Linked DNA regions of Homo sapiens: regions 2 and 3 are each linked to region 1. The links come from fine-mapping of genetic effects on plasma protein levels. A gene starts in region 1. Each other region holds a variant in brackets. All regions are shown on one strand. Distances are between the middles of the regions. Region 1 holds the start of CPXM2 (carboxypeptidase X, M14 family member 2). Region 2 has its middle 52 kb from the start of CPXM2. Region 3 has its middle 23 kb from the start of CPXM2.

What was found. A credible set is the group of variants that fine-mapping cannot tell apart. PIP is the chance, under the fine-mapping model, that this variant and not a neighbour inherited with it causes the effect. The UK Biobank Pharma Proteomics Project read protein levels with antibody pairs (Olink). The fine-mapping took linkage between variants from a reference panel, not from the people measured, so its PIPs are less certain.
Region 2: its variant is the best candidate, but not a certain one, in a credible set for the plasma level of the CPXM2 protein (UK Biobank, PIP 0.56).
Region 3: its variant is the best candidate, but not a certain one, in a credible set for the plasma level of the CPXM2 protein (UK Biobank, PIP 0.81).

The regions. Positions count from the first base shown.
Region 1 is chr10:123,885,583-123,895,445 of GRCh38, reverse strand. It overlaps CPXM2 (carboxypeptidase X, M14 family member 2), which reads left to right and starts at 3,639. Exons shown (of 14, transcript NM_198148.3): 1 at 3,639-4,090. The coding sequence starts at 3,787. LOC105378534 (a long non-coding RNA gene) reads right to left here and starts at 1,742. Exons shown (of 3, transcript XR_001747622.2): 1 at 1,463-1,742; 2 at 1,202-1,368.
Region 2 is chr10:123,938,414-123,948,276 of GRCh38, reverse strand. It overlaps a transcript of CPXM2 not described here. Among named protein-coding and RNA genes, the nearest start is that of CPXM2, 52 kb to the right of the region's middle. RefSeq lists an enhancer at 9,233-9,402. The variant G/T (reference allele first, on the strand shown) is at 5,311.
Region 3 is chr10:123,909,438-123,919,300 of GRCh38, reverse strand. It overlaps a transcript of CPXM2 not described here. Among named protein-coding and RNA genes, the nearest start is that of CPXM2, 23 kb to the right of the region's middle. The variant A/C (reference allele first, on the strand shown) is at 5,270.

The DNA of each region.
Region 1 (9,863 bases):
GAGGCCATTAAGAGTCTGTCTTGGCCGGGCATGGTGGCTCACGCCTGTAATCCCAGCACTTTGGGAGGCCAAGGCGGGTGGATCACCTGAGGTCAGAAGTTCGAGACCAGCCTGACCAACATGGTGAAACCCTGTCTGTATGAAAAATATAAAAATTAGCTGGGTGTGGTGGTAGGCACCTGTAATCCCAGCTACTTGGGAGGCTGTGGCAGGAGAACTGCTTGAAGCCAGGAGACAGAGGTTGCCGTGAGCCGACATGGTGCCACTGCACTCAAGCCAGGGTGACAAAGTGAGACTCTGTCAAAAAAAAAAAAAAAAAAAAAAGAAAAAAAAGAAAAAAAAAAGAATCTGTCTTATGGTTGTTGCCCAGTGGCAAGTGGAAAGAGCCAAGTTTGAGTGAGCTGGTGAGCCTTGAACCTTACCTAGAGGGGTTAGGTTTACTTGGGATTGGTTAGCCCTGCAGATTCTTCGGTCGGGGAGCAAGGTTGTTAACGGGTGTTTAGGGAGAATGAATGGCTTGTTGCCTTGAAGGAAGAGTGGACGGCAGATCAGAGAGGCCCAAACAGCGAGACCTGCTGAGCACGGATTCCCATCATCTGCCATGGGTCTCTGAACCATGGGCTGAGTGATGGGCAGTGGGAACAGAGGAAGAGGCAGATTAAAGAATGTGTGCCATGAGAGCAGCAGGACTTACTGCTATGTATTAGAAGGTGAAGGAGAGATGGGGCCAAGATGACCAGGGAGGTCTTCATCTGAGAAGCTGAAGAACGCAGGACCCTCCCAGGCAGATAGGTGAGAGTTGGGAGAAAGAATAAGGCTTGCAAACCAAGAGAATGAGGTCAGCTTTGCCGCCCTATCTTCCTAAACTTCATGAGCTCTGACTGTGCCTTGCACCTTTCCAGGACGGGCAGCACCAGAGAGAGGGAGCCAGAGGTAGACAAAGGAGGCTCCAGGAACAGTGCCGTGGGCTTCTGTGTTGGGAGAACTGGCATCAGTGCAATCGATTCTTGTTCTATTTGTCCTACTTGCTTTAATTATGTGTCTCTCCAGGGAAAACAAACAAGCAAGCATTGATAGGGAGAGCAGTAATAAGTGGGACTCATTTCTTTATTCCAGGGACATGTTGAGAGGCATGTTTGGGTAGGGCCTTCTCTGGACACTTACCAGACACTGCAGAGCGGGTATATGTTATGTTACTCACCTAAGAGGTGCTGAAAAGCGGTAAAGTGTCTTCAGGACTCATGGGCTTGGGGCCATTGGGATGTATATGGCCTGACTTTAAATATTGGTTAAAGGCAGCAGAGCAGGGTTAGTCCTGGCCATCACTAGCTTGCTGTGTGTCCTCAGGTAAATCTGGGCCTCAGGATCCTGTGTAAAATGAGAGGGAGAAGATTCATCTTAAATTTGGATGCTATCAGAATTACCTGAGGAACTTCTTAGATATGCTAGTACTTGAACCCACTCTTTAGGAGATTCTGAAGGTCTGGGGTGCCGCCTGGGTGTCGGTCTGCTGTTGAGCAAGCTCTGGGGGTTCTGATGGAGGTGGTGCAGGGCACCGTCCTGGCCTGGGCTGCCTCTGCAGTCCCTCTGGCCAGGATGCCAGGCCAGCCTCTTGTTAGCGCTTCACACAGCTCGCTGGAACGCTGGGTGTGTTGCTTGCTGCTGGAGCCGCTTTCTGTTTCACCACTAAAGACTGTGTTGTCGTCTGGAGTGCCTGGCTTCAGATAAAACAGTCCCCAGGAGTGAGCCCTGGGGATAGGCCATGGAGGAGGGTGGGTGGGGATCCAGGAAGGGTTGGGGAGCAAAGAGTGGTGGGTGGGGAAGGGGACCCTCCTGCCCTCTCACCCTGAGGACTTCTGCTGGCTCTGGATTCCAGAGCGTCCTGGGGGTTTGACAGGCAGGACCAAGGCCTCCTGGTCCCTGCAGACAGGCCCTGCCTCAACCAGCAGCCTCCTCCTCTCCCTCTGGTCATTCTGCTTTGGCCTTCAAACTGGAAGCCTGGAAGACTGGCCCTAAAAGATGGCCTGGTGGAGTGGCCTGCGCAGAAAGAGAATGACAACCTTCCTGGTCCAAGCCCTGCCCACTGTGGGGTCTCAGGAGCCCCCACTCTAGGGAAGTCCTCACTCCAGGGCAATGGTGAGGCCTTGCCCTGGTGCCCTGACTCAGCTCAGTGGCATCGTAGGATCACATCACAGACCCAGAGGAACTGGGAAGGTGACAGGCCAATGCAGGCTTGAGGGTCAGTCTGTCCCTGTAGCGCACTCCATGGGTTCCCAAAGACATCTACACCTGAATACCTAGAACAAGAGATAGTTACGGAACCTGGCAAAAAGTTAGGGAACATGGCAAAATGGACTTTGCCGATGTGGTTAAGGTCACCACTCAAGATAGGATGACTATACTGAATTTTTTGGGTGGGCCCATCTATTCACACTCTCTTAAAAGCACAGAATTTTCTCTAGCTGGAAGGCGGAAAGATGTGGCAGGAAGGGAAGCGATTTGAAGCTGTGCCAGCTCTGGCTCTGAGATGCCGGGCCCACGTGCGAGGACCAGGGAGAGGCCTGGAGGAGCCTGCAGAAGACATGAGGAGGAACACAGGCAGCCAGCAGGAGGAAAGGCGCCTCAGCCCACAGCCAGCGAGTGAACTGCACGTCAGTCCTACTACCGCAAGGAGCTGAATTCAGCCAATACCTGAGTGAGCCCGGAAGTGGACTTTTCGCCAGAGGCTCCCCTAAGAAACCAGTCCTGCTGACCCCTTGATTTTGGCCTGGTGACACTCGCATCAGCCTTCTCACCTGCAGAGCTGTGAGATAGGTGTTGTTTGAAGCCACTAAGTTTGTCATCGTTTGTTACAGCAGCAAGGGAAACGATGCAGTCCCTGGTTCCCCACATCCCCGCCTGGAGAGCAGAAGCCGCAGGGCCATGGGCCTGGGCTCCGCATAAAGAACCCATGCAGAGTTGTCCAAAGCAGGAGGCCCTTTCTCAAAGGACCCTCTGGGCAAGAGCCTGCTCTTGGATGAACCACAAACCCTCTTGTGACCCCTGGATGGCCACCTTGGGGTAACGTCACTGTCTTTCCCAAGACCCAACAGAATCACAGTCTCAGATGGGAGAGGGCTCCTCCAGGGTCCCTAGGCCCTGCTCCCAGGGAACTTTACTCCCAGAAACCCCGGGAACCTCAGGAATTCCTCATTCCCAGTTCCTGAAACAGTAGCATGGCTAGTGGGAAGTCCACGTCTGCGGAATGGTCAGCACACGGGGCACGGTTTGAGAGCTGGAGGCTGCTTGGGCTCTGATTTACTTTAGGACCCTGGGCCAATCTTTTCTTCTCTCAGGTCACGTTTCTCCACCTGTAAAACAGGAATGGAACAGCGGGCCTCAGTGTTTTCTTCTAAGATTGAAACTCATTAGCGTCTCTGGGGAAGCAGGCCCCACGCTGGCTGGCCTGCGGGGGAGGGGAAGGGGGCTTTCTTGGGCTTGGCTGCTTGGAACACCTGCCTCCAAGGACCGGCCTCGGAGGGGTCGCCGGGAAAGGGAGGGAAGAAGGAAGGGCGGGGCCGGCCCCCCTGCGCCCGCCCCGCGCCTCTGCGCGCCCCTGTCCGCCCCGGCCCAGCCCAGCCCAGCCCCGCGGGCCGGTCACACGCGCAGCCAGCCGGCCGCCTCCCGCGCCCAAGCGCGCCGCTCTGCTGTGCCCTGCGCCCTTGCCCCGCGCCAGCTTCTGCGCCCGCAGCCCGCCCGGCGCCCCCGGTGACCGTGACCCTGCCCTGGGCGCGGGGCGGAGCAGGCATGTCCCGCCCGGGGACCGCTACCCCAGCGCTGGCCCTGGTGCTCCTGGCAGTGACCCTGGCCGGGGTCGGAGCCCAGGGCGCAGCCCTCGAGGACCCTGATTATTACGGGCAGGAGATCTGGAGCCGGGAGCCCTACTACGCGCGCCCGGAGCCCGAGCTCGAGACCTTCTCTCCGCCGCTGCCTGCGGGGCCCGGGGAGGAGTGGGAGCGGCGCCCGCAGGAGCCCAGGCCGCCCAAGAGGGCCACCAAGCCCAAGAAAGCTCCCAAGAGGGAGAAGTCGGCTCCGGAGCCGCCTCCACCAGGTAAGGAACTTTCTGCGCTGGGCAGCCCGAGGGGGCGCCGGTGGTTGCGCGCCTCCAGGGGACAACTGGCTTCTCCCATTGTGTGTGTCTGGGATGGGCCAGTCCCGGGAATCTCCCTGTTGCCGCCTCTGCCTCCCTAGGGACTGTATCTGCGCTTCCTGCCGGCCCGCCCAGCTTCCCAGAACTTGTCCTTGACCCTGACATGCATTTCAGCTCTGGCTTATGCCCTTAGGTAAAGAGGGAGCTGTGCAATTGGGAGGCTGCCTATGAGAGTCAAAGTTCTTGTTTCAAGCTTGAAATCCCCTGAGCTAAGGGTCTTTCTGCTGGATGCCTCTTACTTCTCTGCCTACTTCTTCAATCCTCAAATGCGGCTGAATTTCCGCTTTGGGGATGTGGATGGCTGGCTGTTTTGGCAGATGGCCTTCTAGGGAAAGCTCTGCCAGTAGGCCTTTACCCAGTCGTGTCCCTTCTCAGCTCCCTCCTTCCCACTCTCAGCGGGTCTCTTGGGTCCTCTGCCCGGCTGGGGCAGGATGGCACAGCCTCCACTGGGGAGTCTGTGCCTGGAGTCTGCTGCAGCCTGGACTCCGGCTTGGGGGCTCCCTGGCTGCCTGCAGTGCTCCGTCTTTCATCCAAGTCTCATACCCTTCTCAAATCCATCTTCAGTTTCTGCCAACCTCATTTTCTTAGGAAAATGACTTCCACTAAATGACGTAGTTTATTAACCACCTTGTGAAGTGGGGCTTTCTCTAGTTCCAAATGTTCTTTGCTTAAATTGCAGGGGCTGCAGGCCTGGTATTTCAAGAGTGGGGCATGAGCAGGAATGTGGCCAAATTCTCTGGCCTCGCAATGGCCTTTCCTGAAAGGAGATACGTGCGGGTGCCACCGTTACAGGGCTCCGGGTATGGAAGGCATCGTCTTTGTTTGGTTAAACTGCTCACGAAAGTCAGCAGCCAGGGCAGTGGGAAAGTGGAGGAGGGGTGAGGACACAGAACTCCTGAAAGGGTGGACCTATATGAGCACCCCCCTTTGCAGAGGCCCTGGCATGCTTCCATTTGTGGACAACTTTGAATGGGCGGAGATTTCTGAGTTGTGTGACAACCCTGAACACATCCAGAATTTCCAGTGTTTCAGGGAGAGTTATGGGAATTCAGATGTTTAAGAGCTACAGTGGCTTAATAACAGGATTAGGAGTGGGAAGAGACTTATATTTGTAGAATGTCGACTGTGACTCCATTAGAAACTTTATGTGCCAGTTTCATTTCATCCTTTCAGTGGCTCCGAAGGGTGGGTGAGGCTCAGACAGTTTAAGTAACTTGCTCAGCGTCACTTGCTGGCTTGGGATATTTGAAAGCCTTTCTTCTGTCCTTTTTAACTCAAGGCCTTTTTGGTTTGGTAGTTTGAATCAAATCCACATGCATTCTAGTTTTTTTTTAAGTGCCTGCAATGTGCTTAGCTCCGTCCTGGGCATGGTAGGGTGGTGTAGGCAGGAGACATGTATGTTGGGTTCTGGCAGTCACTGGGGGTAGTGCTAAGGGGGAAAGTGGAAGAGAGCCCCAGACTGGGAGTCTGAAGACTGGGCCTAACACCCATGTTTAGGGCTCATCAACTTGGGGATCTGGAATCATGGCTCAGTTTCCTGAGCTTTAACTTCATCATCGTTTGCAAATAGGAAGACTGCACCTGCCACCTCACTTTACTTTGTCAATTGCTGTAAAAACCTTTTTAATGAAAGCTTCCAGTGTGCCTGCCCGCTTATGTGCTGGTCTTCCTGTGAACCTTTCATTCATTCCACAGGCCGTTACCAAGAACCTGCTAAGCACTGGTGCTGGGTGAGATCCTAGGAATGGGGAGAGCAAGACGTTCCTCTTCCCTGCCCCCCAGCCCCCGCCCCCCACCACATGGAACTAGCTGGGAACTCTGAGAAAGTAATCACAGTTGTGTTAAGGGTTGCACAAAAGTGTGGGGTGTTAAGGTAACAAACAAGCTGGGGGAGCTCACTGAATCTGTGGGGGCTTGCGTAATGCTTCCCCGAAGAGGTGATGTTTAAGACTTGACAAGTAAGTCAGCTTGATTGTCCTGGGGACTCGTACAAGTGACCGGACATCATTCCTAAGATAGGTTTCTTTCCCTACAAAACACATCTCAGAAAGTCACAGCCTGGCCTGAGCAGTGTCCACAGACTAATGTGTCTGCAGACTCAGGGGTTACATGGGGAAGTGACTCTCTTTAGTCCTTGGAGAAACAGCTCTTGCCACTCTTGGAATGGGGTCTCTGGAGGAGAAATCAGAGTGTAACCTGAATTTGCAAGAAAAAGCTCATTTGGTTTTGGAAGGCCATCTTGCAGGTAGAGACAGGCCATGGGGGAGCCTGTTGATTCGGTGCCTAGCCTCTGCTCCTGCAGGACACATTGCCCAGTTCACCGCAGCCCTGGCATCCACCGGGATCTCCAAGCCCCATACTGAAAACACGTCTTCGGAAGATCTAGAGACTCACATCAGAGGCCTGTTGGGACAGCTGCCTGCAGACCTGCTACCATGTCAGCTGTGTTTCTAATGAATTCTGTGGGGCTTTTTTAGAGCTCTCCCCAACCATGACAAGACAAGTGTGACATTTATCTCATATTTTTAACTCCTGTCCTTTTTTATTTTGGTGTTTGCTCAGCAGAATCCTCTGCCCTGGACCAAAGTGGGAAGACTGGTTTAAGCGTGAACTTAGTTAGGGGAATCAGTGACAGTTTTGTGCAGTTAAACTACACTAGGAGAAAATTATTTTTTTTCTACTTTAAGTAGCGGCTTGATCTATATGCTGCTCGTGGTGTAATAGAAGCACTTATCTCTGCATTGGATTGTTTTGGAATATCTTAGGAAGGCACTTACATAGGAAGGAACATTGGACTGTGGCCTGGAGTGTTTAATGCAAACTTCTGTACTTTGCTTCACTGGGTGGATGATGCAATGCTATGTATGAGGCACTGAGGTGGGAGTGAGGGGTTCAATTTAGAGATGCATAACAGTATAAAAGCATATATAACTAATTAAAAGTCTATATGTACTTTATCTTTGCAGATGATAAAATATTTCCCAGATAGCTCTTGTTTTGCATAAAGGTGAGTGCAAGGAAAGATGTATTCAGCAGTGATTCCCCACACAGGCAGATTTTCTATGTGGTAGGCCCTAGGAGGGAGCCCTGTTTTAACCCTGTAGCGGGGTTTATGCAAGGAGCCAAGGGCATTGGGGATTTGATCTTGATGTGGGTTCTGGCTTTGACCATTGGCTGTTCTTTCGCACCACCACAGAAATGCCCAATGGGTGTGACATGCTGACATTCATGGAGATGCTTGGAGAACTGAACCCTTTGGCTAACTGAGAGTATTGCATTTTCCATGAGTGGCTAACAGGTTTCCAGAGAAGTAGAGCCCCAATATATTAAACAGAATGGAATCTTTAAAAACATTTATTTAAGCTTTTATTTTGAAATAATTATAAACTCACAGGAAATTGCAAAAATAGTACACTGAGGCCCCATGTACGCTTTGTCAGCTCCCCCCAGTGATAACCTCTTAGATGATTCTAGTACAAGATACTTCAATCTTGGCAGGATTGATGTTTTGGGCCAATTGTGTGTTTGTTTGTGTATGTGTGTGTGTGTGTTGTGTGTACGTGCCAACAGAGGAGGAAGGGGGTTGCCTTCCTGTGTATTGCAGGATGTTTAGCAGTGTCCCTGGACTCCAAATTGGATGCCAGTAGCACCCTCCCCCCTGTTGTCACAACCAAAAATGTCTCCAGACATTGCCAAATATCCCCAGGGGGATGGGAGTCACTGTTGTATACAGTATCAAAATGAGGAGGTTGACAGTGATACTGTTAACTAGATTACATGCCTTACTCAGATTTGACCAGTTCTTACATGCATTTGTAGGCATGTTCTCTGTAGTTTTTATCACATGTACAGGTTCATGGAACCACCACCACTGTCAGGATATGGAACCGTAGAATCTTTTTCTTAGGTTGCAGTAGGATTTTGGTACTGTACAGTTTCTGAGGTCCTCATTGTGAACACTCATCCATCCGAGAATTTTAGAACTCTAAGGACCTAAGTGGACACTGAGCACAGATTCTTGCTTATTGCGAGATTCTAACAGTGAGCTGCCCGGCCTCTGCTCACAGGCTTCCATGGATGGACTCTCACCATTCAGTGGATGAAGAGTACTTATTGCTAGAATGTTCTTCCTCATATGAACTTGACAACGTTCTGCTCTCTAATTCCATTTATTTAGCTGTTTCGAATTGAATTTGACAGTTTCTAGATCCCTGCAGTTGGAATGATTTAAGGCCACGGGAGTGAATCTCAGGTCCTCAGTTTTCATTCTCCCAGGGTTATGAATAAGGTAAGGGGCCACATTTTGCACGTGCAAGTGGATTTGGGGGTGTCTTACTTTCCATGCCATCTTCAAATTGATGACCCTGGTTTGCAGCCATATTCCTTTTGAAGAATAAAATAGAACAGAAAAATAAACCATAGTTATAGAACTTATCCTTTTCCTCCCACTTGGCAGTAACAATCAAATCAAATAATAAGCTGAACTATTGATTTGAATGAGGGATTTGAAGATTTTATTTATTTCTCTCTTCATTGCACATTGGGTTAGAAGTAGGCTTGGATATGTAGTCTTTAAATTTGAGTTTCTGCTTGGTCCTTTGTTCATAACTTTCTTCCTGTGCTGGTGAGAATGCACCGCTGTTTGAATGTGGACAAACCCACATCATCGCCATAGTCTTGAGCCCGTGGAATTTGCAGAGGGGGCAGCGAGCCACGTTTGTTTGTGTGTCTGTGCTCAGAATCATTGAGTTTGCATTTTGTACTGTGCTGGGCCCCAGTTGCAGGGGGAAATAACCAAAGAGTTGTTCTTTGAGCATATTTGGTTGTAAACAAAGCCTTTTCTGTTGTGTGTGCCGTAAGCCAGTTGGTGAAAAGGGCTTCACATTTAAGCTTTCCTTCTCTTTTCAGTGTGTTTTGCTGCATTTGGCTTTTGGATGGAAATGTCTTCTCCTGGGCAAAATGGGAGTGTGTAAGGATTAGGAAGCTGTGTTTGTAAATATTTCAATAAGTACTTTAAAAAGCAATCACAATGCTATTAGCATACCTAAACAATTAACAAGCAATCCTTCATGTCAAATTATATGCTTACTTTAAGAGTTAAATCCAAAGTGTTTTGTCCAGGTAAACTCCCTATAGAATTCCAAGGGAGAGGACGTCATTTCCTGTACATTAGCAAGCAGCTTTCTAAGACACCACCTCCATTTCCAAAATGCTTTCCAAAGTCAACTATTAATGCTGGCAAATTTCCTCTTGCCTGTGCCCAAGGTTCCAGAAACCAGGGCTCGCGCATGGATAATAAAGGAGGACACACCCACGTTTGCGAAAGCTGGACTGCATGCTGTGGTTCTTAAAAATAGCCACTGTGTTTTCTGTATGCCTCAAGTGTCCATGGCTGCTAGAGCTCATGGCACCTTTAGTGTGGGGACAATGGCAGCCTGGCCCTGGAGCCTTGACTTTTGAGGTGGAGGTTTTCTCTGGATGTCCCTGAGGGTCCAGGGAGCCTGAGCATTCAGGCTTGGCATCTCCAGCAATGGCTCTGCCCTCTGTGGCCCTCTCAGGCCCCAGCCACTGCAGCTACCACTCTGGGGTCACAAAACCCAGGAAATTAGGGTTTCTTTGGATGGCCACTGGAAGGGCTGGCATCCACATCTGGCTGGCAGCCAGCTGGCTACTC
Region 2 (9,863 bases), 53 kb before region 1:
ACTCATGGTGTAGGCAGAGCACAGAGTGACCTGTGCTTTGATGTGGGTATTAGAGAAACCACAGCCACCTGGTGGGTGTAGGAGGAGCAGAGAGAATTGGCAAGGGGATGGGGCAGCCTCCTGGAGGACGTGATGCTGAACTGAGCTGTGAAGGATGAATGGGAAACACCTGGAGGAAGAAGGGTGAATGGGAAACACCTGGAGGAAGAAGGGAGTGGGGAGGAGTTCCAAGCAGAAGGGACCGAGCCGCATGGACTGGGAATTCTAAGTGGCTGGATAGAAAGCGTCTGTCAAAGACGGTGACACGTTAGGCCAGAGAGATTTGGGGACCTGAAGGCCTCGAAGGTCTCTCTCTGTGTTACTTTCATGGGCGTGGAGTACAGATGTGTCTCAGAGCACCCCTACACTTGTGCAGTGCACAACTCAAATAACTGAGCAGGGTGACCCTGCCCCACTAAGGGAGATGAGCTTTATCTTGAGGGGAATGGGCAGCCTTCAGAGGGTTTGAAGCAGAAGATTGACATGGCTATAAATGTGAGTTTAAAAGATCACAGTGGCTGTGGAGCATGTGTTAGAGGAAGAAAAGGCGGAGGCAGGAAAGCAGTTGGGAGGAAGCCTTGTGAATGCAGGTGAGGCTTGTCAGGGCTGCTTTCAGGCAGTGCTGGGGAGAATGGAGGGGCGCATGCTGTGTGGGGCCCGCAGTGGCTTCTGTAGGAGCTTGAGAGTGACAGCACAAGGAATGAAGAAAATGTCCAATCCACTGTAAACATCTTCGGTGAGTAACAACGGGACTTGTAAAATCAGCTGCCATTGTTGATGCTTATGCCATAGAAACTTGCCAGGAGTTTTCTCCCCGACAGTTTCAATGATGCCTGCTGAATTATGTTGCTTGTCACTGAGAATATGAATACTTTAAGGCATTTCTTTGTTTCAGTAACTCTCCCCTGCTAATACTCAATACCTTTTCTCTGTTACGACTCAAAGAGATGTTCTTGACTCTGACCACCCACGTGCCAATTCAGTTCTGGAGAAGCAGAAAAACCTGAGTGCTGGAGATGGCGAAAGGTCTGTGTCCCTGGCGTGCCCAGGTCCACGTCTGCCTGCCCTCCTCCCTTCCCCAGTTGTTGCAGGGGGCTAAATGGTCTCAGCACTGCCCAAGCACCCACAGCAGAATCTGCTAGAGCCTGGTCCCGTAAGCTTCCCACCTAAGCTTAGTCTCCCAGTTCTAAGCTCAGCCCCCACCCTCAACCCCTCACAAAGGCAAATACCTCCCCTCTTCCCTCTCTCCCAAGACTACTCTGAAAACAAGCCCTTATACTTGGTCATCTATTGACAGCTATGCTTTGCATAAGAGAGAAGGATCTGGAATCCCTGGGCACAATTCAAGAGGCAGGGATGTGGCAGAGGGAGAAAGAGTGGAGAGGAAGAGAAGACCCAGTGAGAGGTGGGGAAGATGAAAAAGCTGGTAGCCAAGAAAGACAATTCCAAGGCTGGTGTGGCCAAAGAACCACAATGCCATTCACACTGAAATATGTGTGGTTGCCAGGGAGCCACCTGGGAGGTGGAAGCTAGCTGCTTTAACAACAAAATTCAGGCCGGGCGCGGTGGCTCACGCCTGTAATCCCAGCACTTTGGGAGGCCGAGGCGGGTGGATCATGAGGTCAGGAGATCGAGACCATCCTGGCTAACAAGGTGAAACCCCGTCTCTACTAAAAATACAAAAAATTAGCCGGGCGCAGTGGCGGGCGCCTGTAGTCCCAGCTACTCGGGAGGCTGAGGCAGGAGAATGGCGTGAACCCGGGAAGCGGAGCTTGCAGTCAGCCGAGATTGCGCCACTGCAGTCCGCAGTCCGGCCTGGGCGACATAGCGAGACTCCGTCTCAAAAAAAAAAAAAAAAAAAAAAAAAAAAAACCAAATTCAAACGAGTACTGGCTCAACACGAGGCCGCGCACCTCGTGCTTGCAGGACAGGCCTGGGGTTGACTCACCTCCATGTAGTCCCTTGGGACCCAGGGTCCCTCCTCCTGGTCTCCATCATGGTCTGGTTAACATGAAGGAAAGGGCCTAGAGAACATGCCAAAGGTTTCTCCAGATTGGGGCTGGGAATAGCTCTCTCACTCCTTTTTTTAAAACAACTTTATTGAGGTACATTTTACGTATCATGAAGTTTATCCATTTCAGATATCAGTTCACTGATTTCGGTAACTTTACCAAGTGTTGTAACCATCACCATAAAACAGTTTTAGAGCACTTTCATCCCCAGTAAGATCCCTCATGCCCATTTCCTGTCATCTCTGTTCCTATCCCCAGGGAACTGCTACTTTACCTTCTGTCTCTGTGGATTTTCCTCTTCTGGACATTTCATTGAAAGTGAGTCATACAATCTGTGGTCTCGTGTGTCTTGTTTCTTTCACTCAGCCTCATGTTTTTAAGGTTCACTCAGAGAGAGAGACAGTAGTTTGTTTCTATTTATTGTTGAAGTGTATTCCATTATATGAACAGACCATGACACTTCACTTCTGCCCTGCTTCCATTAGCTAGAATGCAAGTCACGTGGCCAAACCTAATTGCAAGGGAAGCTGGGAAATGTAGTCTCTGTACCCAAAGGAAGTAAGGCTTTTGTGAACAGACAGTGGTATATCCTGACAATTCCTCCCTGTCTCCAATTACTCCATAAAAAGCTATAAATACACAAATGACACGCATGAGTGGTGTGTGTGTGTGTGTGTGTGTGTGTGTTTGCAGAAACTGCATAGTCCAGGTCTGACTTGGCTGGATGGGCAGCAGGGCGTGTGTGTGTGAGAAGGTAGGCGGGAGAATAAACGCTAAATTGAAGGTCAGAGGTAGCCTTGAGGACATGAATGTAACCGTGGGCTTGTTGAGACCACAGAAGAAGGGTCAATGTAGAGCTTAGCCAGGTCCTTGGAGGCAGGGAGACCCTGCTGGTGCGTGGGTTACAATTGCTGGCATGATTTAAAATGCACCTGGAACAGCCCTTGAGAGGGACCCTCTGGGGCTGGCTAAAGACATCTCCTTTGTGCTTGTGATTTCCACGGCAGCAGCATATTATTGACTCTTCATGAGCATCGTCACAGCTCAAAGTCTGGAAGTATAATTTTTAGGAAGAAAATATTCCTTCTTTTTGCATTCTTGGAATAGTTGTCAAAGGGGGAAATGACCCCCAGAAAAAGTATGGTCTTTGTAGGGGAAAAAAAAACTGCACTCCTGGGCCCTTTGAGAAGTTGATGCTGCTACCAGAAGTTCAGGACAAAGAGTGATTAGACTTGCGGCCTGAGGAGTTATTTAAGGACACGCTGTGCCCCGGCTCCCTTTGAGTCTCAGCAATGTTTTTCACTTAGCATTTTAATCATTTGGTGGAAAGGAGGAGATGAGCTTTCAAGGCCAGAGAATTCCATCATTTGGAATAACAGGCCAAGCAGCCCACGTTGACCTGAGGCTGACTTCTCTGGACAGCTGAGGCCCAGCACCCGCCCTGTGGAGCCCACACTCCGGCTTTAGGATGCCTGAGAAGAGCCAGCCATCTTTATGAAGGGAAGAGGTGCTGTTGCTTCTCCTGTTTGGAAGCAGAATGCTGGCAGTGTGGTTGGGATGCTGTCTGTTGTCCAGAGGGCAGTGGAGGTTATAGAAAATTCCACACAGAACTCTGAGGAGCCACCCTCAGATTTGCTTTGCACCGTCCAGAAATTCTCATCTCAATGGTAACGCATCTGTCTAGGGAGAGTCAAGAGGGAAAGAGAGTGGGACCAGCGTTCTGCTGGAACTTTGCAGGCATTTCTTAGAAAAGCAAGTCAGTTTTCCCAGGTTCTGAAAATGGCAAGATTGAATGCTAGAATTTCATACCAGGTTCAGAACCCTTTGTTTTAAAGACCCACAGAGAAGAAGTGAATTTGTGTTGAGCCGGAAGTAGAACTTTTGACTTGTAGAGATTGGCCAAATCTTATCTGGTGCTTTGTAGAGCCTACAGAAGACCTGTTTCCTGCTCTACAAGAAGGAATGGGGGTACTGATATTTAGGATGAATCTGCTCTATATCAGATGCTTTTTCCACGTTTCCTATATTCTCAGGTAATCCCACAGCTCATCAGGTGAGTTAAACACCCCTTGTGAGGTCACACAGCAGGCAAAAGGGAGAGTTGGGACTCAAACCCAGCTCAGCCTCACACCCCAGCCCGGGGCCTTTGCAAACATCATGGACACTTTAACCTTGTAGGACATCCTATCCCAAGCTGTGGAGCTTTGCAGGATGATCCTGGCTGGAAGCAGAAGCAGGTGACCACGATGACGATGGTCTCTTTAATTAGGATGCCACAAAGGACCTGTTTAGCCTCAGCTCTGGAGATACAAATACCTTCTCAGAGCTACCCACTACACAGATCCCCCTTCTATTCCATGGGGCAGCAGGGGTTGTCTGCTCCATCTGGGAAGAGGACCAGGACAGTGGTGTCCCTCTAGGCCCAAGACGGACTGTGTTTGTCTTTGCAGGTGGCTTCATTGCGCCAGACAGCCCCACCGTAGCCTGGGCCCTGAGCTTCTGCCTACCAGGCTGTCAGCAACATCTCAGCAACAGGCTCCAGCCAGTTGGCACATACCTGGCTCAGCTCTACAGGTAGCAGTGATGCTTTTAGGACCTCGTTTGTTATTTTTCAGACCTAACCTCATTGCTCTGCACTTCAGGGGCTGAAATGCAACTCCCTGTGGGGCCCAAGGGGACTTTTGGCCTCTCTGCAGCCTGCTGGTCCCTGGAGGATCTACCTCGTGCTGCTCACCCAAACCCTGCACGGCTGGCAAATCCCTTCTGGGTTTTGTTTGAGGCACCAGAGGCTCCCCTGAGGCATTGAATTCTGATTTTATTGTTGCTGTTGCTGTTGATGTTTGTGTCCATACATTTTGCAACTTCCCACAAACTTGTACATCCAAATGCTTTGCCCTGTTGTCCTTGTTAAAAGGATAATTTTTAAAAGGCACAGTCATGATTGTCATAAAATATACAATGAACACATCAAGTTTACTTAACTTACTATTTAGTGAGGAAAGCAATAGTATGGTACGACCAGTTCAAAGGAACATTCAAAGAACACACATGAATTTAGAAATACAGTCATACGTTGCTTAACTATGGGATATGTTTTGAGAAATGCATTGTTAGGCAATTTTGTCATAGTGTGAACATCAGAGTTCGCTTACTAAAACCTGGATGGTATAGTCTACTGGTATGGCCATATGGTAGAGTCGATTGCTCCTAGGTTACACAGCTGTACAACATGTGACTGTACTGAACAGTGCAGGCAATT[G/T]TGACACAATAGTAAGTATTTGTGTAACTAAACATATCTAAATATAGAAAGGGTAAGGTAAAAATATGGTATTATAATCTTATGGGACCATCATCATATATGTGGTCCGTCAGGGGTTCCCATCCAGACCCCAAGAGAGGGTTCTTGGATCTCACACAAGAAAATTTGGGACTAGTCCGTAGGGTAAAGTGAAAGCAACTTTATAGAGAAGTAAGGAAACAAAAAGATGGCTACTCCATAGTGAGAGCCCTCCTGAGGGCTGCTGGCTGGCTATTTTTACAATTATTTCTTGATCATATGTTAAACAAGGGGTGGATTATTCACAAGTTTTCTTGGAAAGCGGTGGGGATTTTCTGGAACTGAGGGTTCCTCCCACTTTTAGGTAATCTAGGGTAACTTCCAGATGTGGCAATGGCATTTGTAAACTGTCGTGGTGCTGGTGGGAGTGTCTTTTAGCATGCGAATGCATTATAATTAGCATATAATGAGCAGTGAGGATGACCAGAGGTCATTTCTGTTGCTATCTTGATTTTCGTTGGCTTCTTTACCACATCCTGTTTTCATTAGCGGGGTCTTTGTGACCTGTATCTTGTGCTGACCTCCTATCTCATCCTGTGACATCGTAGGTTAAGAATGCCTAACCTCCTGGGAATGCAGCCCAGCAGGTCATTTTACCCTCGGTTTACCCAGTCCCTGTTCAAGATGGAGTCACTGTGGTTCAGATGCCTCTGACACATCCTTGACTGAAATGTTTTTATGCCGTGCATGACTATAGATCCAAAGCTGGTCGAAACCCACAGAGCAATAGCAGTTGCATTCTACCAGACAAAATCCATCTGCACTTCTGTGGACTAGAGCCATTTGCATTACTCTAAGTTTTCTGCAACTTACAAAATTGTCCAATTCCTCAAAGACAATGAAAGGTGCAGGCCCTTAGAGATTCAGATAACCCTGGAGGGGTGCATAGATAGGACACCCAGCAATCTTTTTAACCTATTTTAAGCTCTTTCACAATTTCTCCTGGCATGCCCATAGGGATCTAAGCACACTTGCATGTGCAAGCCATTGTGCCTACAGATTCTGGGTTTGCCTGTTTCCACTGCTTCATCCGCATCTCAGATGCGGTTCAGAGAAGGTAGGTGGCCTGCTCAAGGTGAACGAGAGAACCAGTTCTTCTGGCCTCATACTCTAGCTTTTGAGCTCTTCTTCAAAGCACCCCCAAAGGCAGAGGAGGGGGAAAGTCCTCTGGGGTCCACAGGGCAGCCGTCCGCTGCAGGTGGGAGGGTCTTACGTTCTACCTCGTGAATATCCACACTGGTTAAACATAAAAACAATGTTTTAACATTATTCACTGTTATGGGTCAGATTGTGTCCTCCAAAAATGTATGTTGCGATCCTAACCTCTAGGACCTCTGAATGTGACCTTTTATGAAATAAGGTTACAACAGATGTAATTAGTTAAATTTAGACAAAGTCATACAGGAGTGGTGGTGGGGGGCTTTTAATCCAATATGATGGTGTCCTTATAATAAGAGAAGATACAGAGACAGACACAGGAGGCGGAGGCCACGTGACAACAGAGGCAGAGATTGACCTGCTGCAGCTGTAAGCCGAGAAACACCAGGGAAGCTGGCAACCAGCAGAGGCTAGGAAGAAGCAAAGAAGGATGCTTCCCTAGGGCCTTCAAAGGGAACACGGCCCTAGCCACACCTTGATCTTAGATTCCTAGGCCCCAGAACTATGAGACAATACATTTCCATTTTATTTTATTTTTAATTTATTTATTTTTTTGTTTTGAGATGAAGTCTCGCTCTGTCACCCAGGCTGGAGTGCAGTGGCGCGATCTCGGCTCACTGCAAGCTCCGCCTCCCAGGTTCATGCCATTCTCCTGCCTCAGCCTCCCGAGTAGCTGGGACTACAGGCACCCACCAGCACGCCCTGCTAATCTTTTGTATTTTTAGTAGAGACGGGCTTTCACTGTGTTAGCCAGGATGGTCTCGATCTCCTGACCTCGTGATCCGCCCACCTCAGCCTCCCAAAGTGCTGGGATTACAGGCGTGAGCCACCGTGTCCGGCCCATTTCCATTGTTTTAAGCCACCTGTTTGTGGCACTTTTGGACGGCAGCACTAGGCAATGAGTACCCTCACCATGGAGACACAGATGCTCCAGGAAGAAGCACCAGGCTTGTCCTGTGGCTTTGAGGGCCCCACCGGTGTGGGAATCTTGAGCTAATCCATGGTCCCAGAAAGGCAAGTGCTGTTTTCCACCCACTCCAACAACTCAGCGTTGGTTTAAAATGCTGGAAGTCGAAAGAGAAAGGCTGTTGCCATCTATGGATGCTTGTTAGGTGGGTGTTGAGGCGTCCCCCAAGAACTTGGAAATGAGGGAAATAAGCCTGCTCACTGAGAGCCGGAGCCAAGGCCCACACACAGAGTGTAGATCAGAGATGGGCAAAGTTGTTGGGTAGTGATGAGTGATTCCCAGGCTTGGGCGCTCCCTTGCCAGGTGGGTTCTGGGGTGGATCTGGGACAAGGGCACAGATGTCCCGTGCACATCATCACAAGGACACAGAGTCCTGTGCCCATCATCACAATGACAGAGATGTCCTGTGCAAATGACAAGGACACAGATGTCCCATGTACATCATCACAATGACACAGATGTCCTGTGTACATCACAGCAAGGGCTCATCACCCATGGGTAGGTAAAGAAGAGGCATGGAGGTGAATGCAGGCAGCAGCTTTCAGGGAAGAAGAAGCATCAGGCTGCAGACCTTGCCTCCTCCCTGCCCTGATGGCAGGACTGAGGCCTCCCAGGGTGAGCTGGGTGCAGGCAGCAGGGGAGGGGTTGTGGTCCTGCTGCTTCGAGCTCAGGGAGCTTTACAGCCAGGATGTGTCGATGACTGTGGTTCTGGGACTGAGGGATGTCGATGGTGGGGTGGGGCCGTTAGGTATTCTCTTCTTCTAAGTCTCCTTGCTCTAATTCCATGACTTCAAGTCCTGCAGATGCCCCTACCCAGCTCTGCCTGTGTGGACAGGAAGTACGTGCTAGCTCTTCAGCAATGTGGTCTCGTGGGCCTTCTCCTGGAGAGCCAGCCATGGGGTTCCTGCACTTGGGCCTGGCTGTCAGAGAGCCCTGATCAGGCACATCTGGGGTGCGCCCAGGCTCTGGGACAGGGATTCTCATGGCAGACTGATGCCTTGGGCCTCTGTGCTCCCACTTAGCATGCGTCTACCTGTCTGGCCTGATAAAGTCACATCCAGACAGCCTCTCCTTAGGCCCGGCCTCCCCATGCCATCCCCAGGGCTGGTGCTCTACTGACTTCTGCACCAGACACCCCGCTGAGCCCTTTAGACGCAGAGTCTCATGACATTACAATCATCCCAATGACCCTGTATATTAGGGCGTGTGCCTTTCTCTCCTCCTATTTTAAGGATGAAGAAACTGAGGCTGAGGCAGTTCAACAACTTGCCCAAGGCCACGCAGCAGGTCAGTAACAGAGACAGGATGGGAATCCAGCCCCATCTAACTCCAGAGCTGGCCTCTTTCCACATCCCCTCGCTTAGAGCCACCAGCATGACCGAGAAGCCAAAACCCACCAGGATGGCAAGAGGGGACTTCCTGAACCTGCCTGCCTTCCACCTGCTGGGCCCCGCTTGGTGCCGCTTTTCTAGTTTACTTTAAATATGTGAGTCCTATTTCCAGCCTTACCCGAAGCAGGCCCAGGTAGAAAACATTGCCATGGTAACCCTGCTACCAAGGGGCAGTACTGCTTCTGGAAAAGATGATACCTTGGTTCCCAATACTACGGCTCTGTGGGTCTGAGGGACAAGTTTAATTGGCACTGCTCACAGTTGGCTCTGCAGATACACTTCTCGTGGCTTTATGTCCCTGACATGGTATCCAGGATACCAGGAACATAATGTGTCTGCTCCTCCAGAGGAGGGAGAGGGGTGAGTCTGGCTGTGTCATTTGTATCGGCTCTAGTTTGTCTGATCAGAGGGCTTGGCAGGGTGGGAGCTCTGGGTGGGCTATGGAAGTACCTGGGCTGTGATCCACCTGTGTCCCTGGGTCACCTATGTCCCCCAGTGAAAGTCACCTGGGCTGGGTCCCACCTGCATTTCCAGATAAGTGTTGCCTCCCACTGCCATCACCGACTCTACATTGAAAGCCTGGCATGACCCCTCTCTCTTTCTACTGGCTCACCATAGACCAGAGCGTATACGGGTGGCCCTGAGTATCTGCAAGATGGCTGCGGTAGACGCTGGCCAGCCGGGCAGCCAGCGGGCATTCACCATTCTTGCTTGCTAACGGCATCTGTCACAGTGACCCTGTTCCCCTTGGCCAGGTGCACAGTGTCCCAGGCTCCCTTGCAGCTCCAGGAGGTCACATGACAGAGTGCAGGCCAATGAGCTATGAAGACATCTCCTGGGAGACTATTGGGAAAATTGTTCCCTTCCTAGTAAAAAGAAAGAGACAAGGGGAAAGAGCTACTCTCCTCCTCTCTTAGGGAACAGACATGCTCTTTGAAGCCATCTCATGATCAGGAGAT
Region 3 (9,863 bases), 24 kb before region 1:
TTTAGCAGGTAATCAAGCTGGTTAGGAATGGACCACAAGTCCCTGTGCATCTTTTGTGGGCCGGAGTTTCAATGTCAGTTTGATTTTCAAAGGCTCTGTGGTGCTATTTGGATATGTCCTGTGTGGGGACCACCCAGGGTCCAGTCTGGGTCCTGAGCAGTGGATGTACAGCAGTTAAATTCTCAAAGCCTTGTCTATGCTACTTTATGTCAGTTCCATACGTGCACAGCTCAGAGAGGAGCTGTGGGCTTCAAACAGATTTAGGGGCTCTCTTTCTTCAGCTGCCTCCTCTTCCAAATTTCTTCCACAATCTCCAGCTCCCAGTGGCCCCCTTTCCTGGTGCTCCAGCTGGGGTTTTTACCTTCCCTGTGTTTTCATGCACTCTCTGTGACTGGGTCCACTTTAGGACAAAATAGCTAGGAAAAAAAGAAAGAGGAGATAACAGACGTCCTTCCCACCTCACTCTTTGGACCACAGGGACCCCTTTTCCAGCTTCCTCTAGTCAGAGGAAATAATTTTCTCAGAATTTTACATGCTTGTATGGCTTCCATGACCACTGCTGCTGAAGGGGATCACAGCATCATGACTGGGGATTGCCTTGGGACAGGGCTGGAAGACTAAAAGAAGGGAAAAGGAAAACAAAATGCGGATTTAGCCCCAAGCTGTGCACTGCAAGAGCTGCCCTTCTGATTTTCTGGCCAGAAAGGGAGGATTTCTCTTGGAACTTATTCTGTGCACATAACATCTGCCACACAGTTCAGGATTTAGCTGTTCTAGTGTCTAAGCCAGGAAATATGAGGTGGGAGCACTCCAGGACACTCTGCTGGATCTGTATTTCTTCGAGTTTTTATTTCTTTCCCTACTCTGTTATTATTTTTCACAGTACTCTGATAGTTATTTTATATAGTCTGTCCTGAGTTTTTAGTTGTAACCAGTAGAAGAGATAGAGAGTAAGGTATACCTCCTAGCCAGAATCGAAACCTGCCAAGTTATTTTTCATGGCTGCATAATATTTCAGCAAGCACAAGGGTCATAATTTCTTGAAATTTCTCCCTATTCGATTTTAGGTCATTTCTATTTGTTTTCATTATTATAAATAACCAGTGAATATTTGTTTCCATATTAATAATTATTGTCTTACAACAGATATTCAGGTGAAATGGCTGAGGAAATAATAAATACCAACATATTTAGATCCCTGGGCTTCCTTCTGATTGGAATGCGCTGCCCATATTTTCTTGTGAATGGGTCCTTCTTGTCATTAACTCCTCAGGAGGCATGGACTCTCTCTCACACCTGCCCTACAGTCTTGAACACATCACCCTGTTTTAATTTCTTTATGTGTTCCTATTATAACATCATCCCTGACAATAGAGAGATCTGTCTCCTGTACCACTGTATCCCCAGCAGCCAGGACAATGTCTGGCACAGAGTAGCTGTTCAATAAAGATTTGTTGAATAAGTTATATAGCACAGTGTTGAGGCATGTGGGTTTTTAGTCAGGTGGTCCAGGTTTGAATCCTTTCTCAGTCCTGAAAAGCTGGCTGAGAGGTATAAATGAGACTGTACGAAAGCTCAGTGCCTAGAGTATGGCAGGCATTCAGGGAATATTAGTGCTTATGCACTATGAATCATCAACTTGCTACTTCTGTAAAATGGGGCTAGTAATACTTCTCTCCTCTTCAACATACAAAAAGTGAATGTTTGTGAGAGCACATGTGGTTGTTAGGTAGAAAGGTGCCATTAAAATCTGAGGCTTTACATCTATTATTATGTGTACAAAATAGCAAGAAAAACGTCAAATGAATTCTGAAGCCCATTATAATCTTCTATCAAGAGCAGCAGTTGGAAGGAAGGTTCTGTCCGCAGGCTCTCTCCAACTCCCTGATGTCTTTGCAATGTTTCATTTTGAAAGAAAGTGTTGAAAAAAGTCAGGCTGGGTGTTAAGAAATGACTATGTAATTTAATTATTTTTAATGACATTAAAGATGTTAGTCATTGTAACTTTCCTTCCTGTGCCTGAGCACATCAAAGCGGATCCTGAATTAGAAATGGAATAAAGGATCTTTTCTATGGGCGCCTCTAGAGAGATGTTAAGGGAGATTTGGGAACGTTATGAATATTTTGGCATCTGCTGATTGTATAGATCTATTTTCATCTCCTACTCTCTCCCTTTTTGCCTCAAGCTGAATGTCTATGCCTCCATCCAATCTCACTCAATTTCAGAAACACTAGGTCCGGCCTTCCCTCCCCTCCCTTCCTGTCCTGGCTTCCCCTCTGCCCCCCATCTCCCTATCTGTCATTCTCACTCCCTACTCACCCCCTCCAGCAAACAACTGGAATCAAGATGAGGATCAGAGCTGGGCGTGGTGGCATGTGCCTGTAGTCTTAGCTACTCTGGTTATCAAGGCAGGAGGATCGCTTGAACTCAGGAGTTCCAAGCTGTGGTGAGCTATGATTGCACCACTGCACTCCACCCTGGACAACAGAGCAAGACTCTGTTTCAAAAGAAAAAAAAAAAAGAGAGAGAGAGAGAATCAAATGGCAGAAGGTGGCTTGAGCTAGAGGAATGAAAGGATTCTTCAGATCATTTAGCCAGATCAAACCAACAAACATTAATTTGATGCCTGATGTTTGCCAGGTTCTGAGCTGAGGAAGAGAGAGGAACACAGTGTCCCTGCCCTGGAGGAGCCTGAGTTAGGGAGGCCAGATGCACGCATGGAAAGCTGAGCAGTTAGGGACTTCAGTCACCACTCAAAGGAGTGGGCTTAATGCAGTCAGAGACGACTGGTCAATGGCAGTGAATAGGAACTCCCATGGGGCTCCATGGAAAGGAGCACAGAGTGAATGGGGGTGGGGTGGGAGTGCTTAGCTAAGTGACTTGATGGCTCTGGTTTTCTCAGTCTTGCAGACCTGGACACAGAAGCCCAGAACAATCCAGAGCCTTATCTAGTGTATCATTCATCAGCGCAGAGTGGCTTCTCTATCCCAGGGCTCCTGGCCCCTACTCCATGGATCCTACCACCTACTCTCGCTTCATCCAGCTGCCTCTGATCCCACATATAATAGCATTTTGCCCCTAATCCCCTGGGATGCAATACAAGCTCACCAATGACCAACATAATGCTCCTAGGGCTGGGAATATTTGGTGGCTGAGATGCTTTCCACTCCTGTAGTAATTTGGGTTTGCACAGGTATTTTTTTTTTCTCCCAAAGCATAAAGTACAGCACCAAACTTCAAGCCTGAGAAAGAGCAGCCTTATGCCAAGTGCCCTGGAATCCACAAGCTTTCAAAGCTGGTGACTGTTTTCCCAGAGGGCACAGAGAGTCATGGCCAGGTGCTAGGTGCTGGTTTCAGGAGCAGAAAATTGCTCAAGGGCAGCAGAGGGCTTTGCTGGCCAACGTCAGGAGTATTCGGCGGAACTCCAGGGCTGGAGTGGGCAACAGCTTCCTGAGCAACCAGGACCAGGGACTGGAAAGTTCATAGAGCACTTTCTCGGTTCCCTGTCATTGTTTTCTCTCTGCTTAGCTTTCAAAATAATACATGAATGCGCACTATTGACCAACTCTGAGGATGTAGTGTGGATCAATCACAGACCTGTCCATAAGGAGCCATTGACCAGGAAGAAAGTTGACATCATACAAGGCAACAAACTAAGAAGAAATGATGAGTTGTCTGAAGGGCTCAGCAGATAGCTGAGATGGAGAATAATATGTGGGGCTTTTATTTTTATTTTTATTTTTTTTGACAATCTCGCTCTGTTGCCCAGGCTGTACTGCAGTGGCCCGACCTCCACTCACTGCAACCTCCACCTCCCAGGTTCAAGTGATTCTCCTGCCTTAGCCTCCCAAATAGCTGGGACTACAGGCGCCTGCCATCACGCCTGGTTAATTTTCATATTTTTAGTAGCGATAGGGTTTCGCCATGTTGGCCAGTCTGGTCTCGAACTCCTGGCCTCAAGTGATCTCCCCGCCTCAGCCTCCCAAAGGGCTGGGATTACAGCTATGAGCCACCGCACCCGGCCTACGTGGGGCTTATTTTGGATGGAGAGATAGGAGGAGATCTCCCTGCCATGCAGGGATGATGTGCAGAGTCAGATGTGTGAGGCAGGAGCAAGTGTGTGAAGGGCAGGGCGAGGACCTTCAGGCAGAGGAACAGTGAGTGCAAGGCCCTGAGGCAGGAAATATTTGAGAAACTGAAAGGATCTAGGCGGGGGAGAAGTGAGGAAGGCATCAGAGGAGCCGCGGGAGGGGAGGGGACCAGAGCAGGTCCAATCTCAAACCTCTTGGTAAGGACTTTGCATTTTATTCTTTGGGTGGGAAGAATCAATGAAAGGGTTTGAAGCAGATCCATTTGTTGTTATGAGCTGGCCCCTCTGGCTGCTGCGTGGAGAACAAATTGTCAGGAGGCAAGAGGGAATATGGGGACTAGTTAGGAGGCCGTTAATCAAATCCAGGTTGTCAGGGAGAAAGAGAGAGCATGGAGACTAGTCAGGAGGCTGATAAGCAAATCCGTGTTGAAGATAGTGCTGGCCTGAATGAGGGCAGTGAAATCTTGGGGAATCAGGGAAGAAAACAGATACATGGTATACGTTGGAAGCTGAATCTACGAGATGGGCTGATGGATGCTATGCTGGGGTTGAGCATTTAGGGCCCGGGTGCCAGGCTTCTGGCTTAAGTAACCATCCAGGTATAAAATGGTGTTGTTGGCAGAGACCAGGAAAACGAATCTGGGAAGGAAAATGGGGAGTTCACCTTTCGAGTGAAGTTTGGGACCTGGAGGCAGCATCTGAGTGGAGATGTCAAGGAGGCTGTCAGTCACACAGACCTGGAACACGGGACTTCTCTGCAAGAATTTAAAGCCACAGCAATGGGTAGAATGAACAGGCTTCCCTAGAGAGAGAAGGGGGAAAGCTGGAAGTGAAAAGGGGCCCAGACCCAGCGCTAAAGAACATGTACATCTTGAGTCTCAGAGAAGGAAGACGAGGCAGAGAAGGCCTGGTCAGGGCATTCCGGTATCCCAGATGGGAGAATGTCCGGGAAGGAAGCCATGGTTAATGTGCTCGATGTGGCTTAGAGATTAAGAAGTAGACTCATGGTTAGCTTCACAGAGTTCCCGGATGACCTTGGCAAGAGCTGTTTTGACCTTCAACTTGGCCATGCTCATTTCCTCTGCTTCTCAGGCACAGGGCAGGCTGGATCTCCTCCCAAATTGCATGCTCCATGCCAAAGAGGTCAAGCCACCAAATGACACTGACTTCCTGCCTTT[A/C]AGGTTGGATTCTGAAACCCCAGGGGAGGGAATGCGGTTGGCAATGGCCTGACTCTGGTGCTCACTCTGGTCCATCAGGCATGGTTCAGGGTCTGGGAATTATGTATTGCATAGGCTGTGGGCAGCTTCCAGCTTCCAGAGCCTGGGAGGGGGGTGCCTCCTGAGGAGGGATGGTGCTTGGAAGTATGCCACAGATCCGGTTAAACAGCCAGTCCACACCATCTTTCTTTCAGAGCTTTATCTCTGCGGACCTGGAGCTGCTGGTCACCATGGAAACAGAAGCTTTTGTTCACCACTTCCTCTTCTCTTTTTCTCGCTCCCCACCCCTCGTCTTTCCTTCCTCTCCTCACACCCACTTGCCCTCCTCTCTACTTTCTTTCCTCTATTTTTATTCCTAATTTTCTATCTCACTTGCCCTGATTTCCTCATCTATTTATTTAAAACTTATTTAAATTTTATTACGTAGCTTCCTTAGCCATCTTTAATTCCCTTTGTGGGAACAAGGTGCGGAATACATGCGTATATTCATTCAGATGTATGCACATACACACCTACGCACATAAACACACTTATGCAATAATTCCAGTGCTCTTTTGCCAAGCCAATGCCCCCTAAACAATCATTAGGGAAAGAATACAGAGTGGTGAGACATATATTCTAGCCTTGTTATTCACCAAATGCTACTTGGAGAATACATATTCTCTTTTGAGTTTATCCTGAGACTCCGCACTTGGATAAGGCTGCACTTCTTCGGCATATCTGTGTATAACTTCAAACAGCCAGGCTTTGACTGCTCCTATCTTAATAAACATAGCTATCAGTCATGTTTAGCTCAAAATACCCACAGCACATCTTTTATTTTATGTATATACACACAACCAATCCAGAATCTTCCAAGAATGCCTCTGCCAAACTCCACACTCATTAATCAAATCAAGGCAGAGAGCCCAGCAGCCTCCTAGAGTAAGAGCTACTATGCAGATTTAGAGCCCTTCATCTCTGCAGAGTAGAGCCCGGGGATCCATTTCCATCGCTAAGCACTCTTTCAGCAGAGAACTACCCGTGTGGATGAGCTTTGGAGGAGTCTGGAGTATGACTACAAAGAGAGGTAAATCCACAAGGTCTGGCAGTTCCTTCATGACCCTCTATACCTAGTTGGCAAATGAAAACAACAACAAAGTAGTTGAACCTGTTGTGTGGCTTCAGAGACAAAAATAACTGGATGGTTGCCTGGACTGAGGTTGTTTGATAAAATAAATTAACAGGTTGTGAGAATCACAAAGATGGAAGTGGGTGATTGATCAGAGCCCGGGATGAAAAAAGCTAAGTGCCTTTCAGAGCCTTCCTCCAGCCGGAGTGGAGAGGGCTGGGCGTGTTTCAGTTCACACTTCCATGCTCCCAATCCCTGGCAGTGCCTCCTAAATTAGCAGGCTTTGGGGTGAATACCCAGGAGGGCATCACAGATGGAAACAAGCCCTGGCCACCAGCCCCTCCCCTTCTTTTCCACACCGGTGCAATGTCTGGGAGGGCACCAGTCTGCAGATGCAGGGGTGGCCCAGGATGTGGAGCTGAGTCCCAGAGGGCAGCCTCTGCTGCCTCTCTCATGTGACCTGGGGAGAGAAATGCCAGTGCAACAGGCCTCACTTTTCTCACCTGTTCAGTGGGTTACAGTGGGTAGCTACTTAGGTATGAGCAGGGCAGGAATGCCTGCCCCCCCCCCCCCGCCCACCATCTGCACACTCACACACACACACGCACTAGGAGTGTTGGGTGACCATCATGTGATGGTCAGGCAGCTGTCAACTGTTTCTCTAAAATAATAATTGGTCACAGGCGCTGCCAGGGAAAGGCAGGCTCCTAAGAGAAAACACCTGAAACCGATCCGCAGCTTCCTAATAAGATCTCAGGAGTGGGGAGAGGGAATGCAAGATCCTGGAAGTATGCCAATGCAGAAAACCCCAGTCGAGAGGTCTAGCTGTGCACGTGGTTCCGCAAGTCACCCGCTTGGTCCTCTTCCAAGTTTGCCCCTCCTTCCCCCCTCCTTTCTGTTCTAAAGCTTTTCAAATAAACTTTCACTCCTGCTCTGAAGCTTGCCTCAGTCTCTCCTTCTGCCTTATGCCCCTCAGTCGAATTCTTTCTTCGGAGGAGGCAAGAATTGAGGTTGCTGCAGATTCACCACTGGTAACATGTAGAGCACCCCACCCCTGCAGGGTGGCAGGAATGATTACAGGAGACGGTGCTCACAGTGTGTGTTCAATGGGTGGCACCTGTAATCAGAGCCCACAGAGGCTCTGTGGGTGCCTTGGCATCACAGTGACATGTGAGCACCCATGTGACTTTCTGGAGTTTCATCTCTTGCCATGCCTCTGTTTCTACCTTGCTGAATCATCCAAGGTTTCCTGAAGTCTCTCAGCTTCTCTCATCTCTGAGTTTCTTGGAGCTGTTTCCGTTCATGGCCTCTTCACCTGGCTATTAGGTTGGTGCGAAAGTAATGGTGGGTTTTGCCTTTAAAACTAATGGCAAAACCCACAATTACTTTTGCACCAACCTAATCGTATTCAGCCTAGTTCTCATCTCCATCACTCTTTCCTCTGAGAAACTTCATCGATGCCCTAAGGCTGGGATAGGAGCCCCCTTGGGGCTGCCCTGCTCTGAGTGTCCTCAGACTGCACTTCCTAGCAGCTGCCGGGGGACCTGTCCCCTGGACCATCAGTTCTTGAGGGCAGGAGTCCCTCATACCCAGCATAGTGCATGGAATGTAACAGGTGCTCAATAAATACTTGCTGAACAAATTCCCAAATGAGAGAGTCACAAAACTAGATAGATCAAGAGAAACATAAGGTCTGTATGGGTTGAATTTTGTCCCCCACAGAAAGATATGTTGAAGTCCTAACTCCCAGTATCTATGAATGTGACCTTATATGGAAATAGGGTCTTTGCAGGTTTAATCAAGATAAGATGAGGTCCTTGGGATGGGCTTTAATCCAGGATGACTGCTGTCCTTATAAGAAGAGGGAAATTTGGACACAGACACAGACACACGAGGGGAGTGCCATGTGGACACACAGAGATCCAGACATAGCAGCACGATGGCCCCATGGAGGCAGAGGTGGAGATTGCAGTGATGCTGCCACAAGCCAAGGAACACCTGGGGCCACCAGACCTGGAAGAGGCAAGAGTGGATCCTCCCCGAGAGCTGGTGGAGGGAGTGTGGCTCTGTGGACACCTGGATCTCAGAATTCTGGCCTTCAGGACCGTGAGAGAATAAATTTGTGTTGTCACCCAGTTCTGTGGTGCATTGTTACTGCAGCCCCAGAAAACGGATACAGTCAATAATGAGGCAGAGACTTAGGTGCAGTTGGGTGAGCACCTGCATTCATACCTGTATTTCACACCAGTTATGCCTAACTCACTTATGCAAATGTCTAGTAACTGATGATTCTGCACCAGCCTGGGGCTTGTATCTGGGAGGGCACAATGAGGAGGTGCTGAGGTAGCCCTTGCTGACGGGAAGTGAAGAAAGCTGGGATGCAGTGGATCAGGAGAACTCCCCCTGGGAACTGCAACAGGGGCCGGGGGTGCAGTTCCGAGAATCTCTGCAGTGGGGGAGTGATACTAGGTTTGATGAATGCTGACAGGACATGAAAGGGTTCTGTCCGGGTGGAGGTCATGATCTTGGCCATTGATTTGACAAAGAATCCTACCTCCAGGGCCGCAAATGCACAGAACTGATTCCCAGACTCCAGAGGGAGAAGGAGTAAAAAAAACCTGGCCAGGTGTCCAGGCATTCAAAGCAAGGCACCTGTCTGGCATGGGTGAGCAACCAAAGGCTGAGTCGGGAGATGAGGCAGGTGTGCAGGGGCGCGAATGTGCAGGTGGGCCAGCTCGGTGGGGCTGGGTTCAGTGAGGGACATTCCAGCCTCTGTCTGCCATTATGGTCTGTGGTGGCCCCACCTGTCTATGGTGGCTGCACCTGCTCCCTACACTGTCTCTGTGGGTTCGGGCGCTGCCTGGCTGCACCCACCAGTACAGGTAGGTGGCTGTGACCCTGGCAGTCCTGGGATATGGAAGCTGGGCCACCTCTCTCGAGGGCATCTTTGTTTCCACGTGCATCAGCATGGAGGGACTAAATGTTGGCATGAGATTGTGTTGAGGGCACTGCTCCATGGCCCTCATGGGTGAACACATGACTGATACTGTTCCTGGACACTGAGGAAGCCCCAAATCACCTCCATTGTCTCTGCTTTGAGAGAACATGACAGGAAGAGGAGAGTGGTTATAGTTATCCTGCCTTCATTTTATGAAAGCATTATGACTTGTTGAAAGATGTTCCTTTGGGAGCTTTTACTAGCTTTCCATTTGAGTCATTGAGGGCTGACTGTCAACTTCTGCATTTGGAGAAGTGTTGACAAAGATTTAGTACCGTACAATGGAAAGAGAAATATTCTGGAGGCTTTGAACGGCCCAGCAAACATGAGCAGCCTGGGTGAACACAATTAGAACCCAATGCAGGGCTGAAGGAAAGCAGCGCCTGGCCGGGCTTCCGCTTGTCAGGTGGAGCCTTGTGGAATATAAATTATACAGCTGCTTTCCC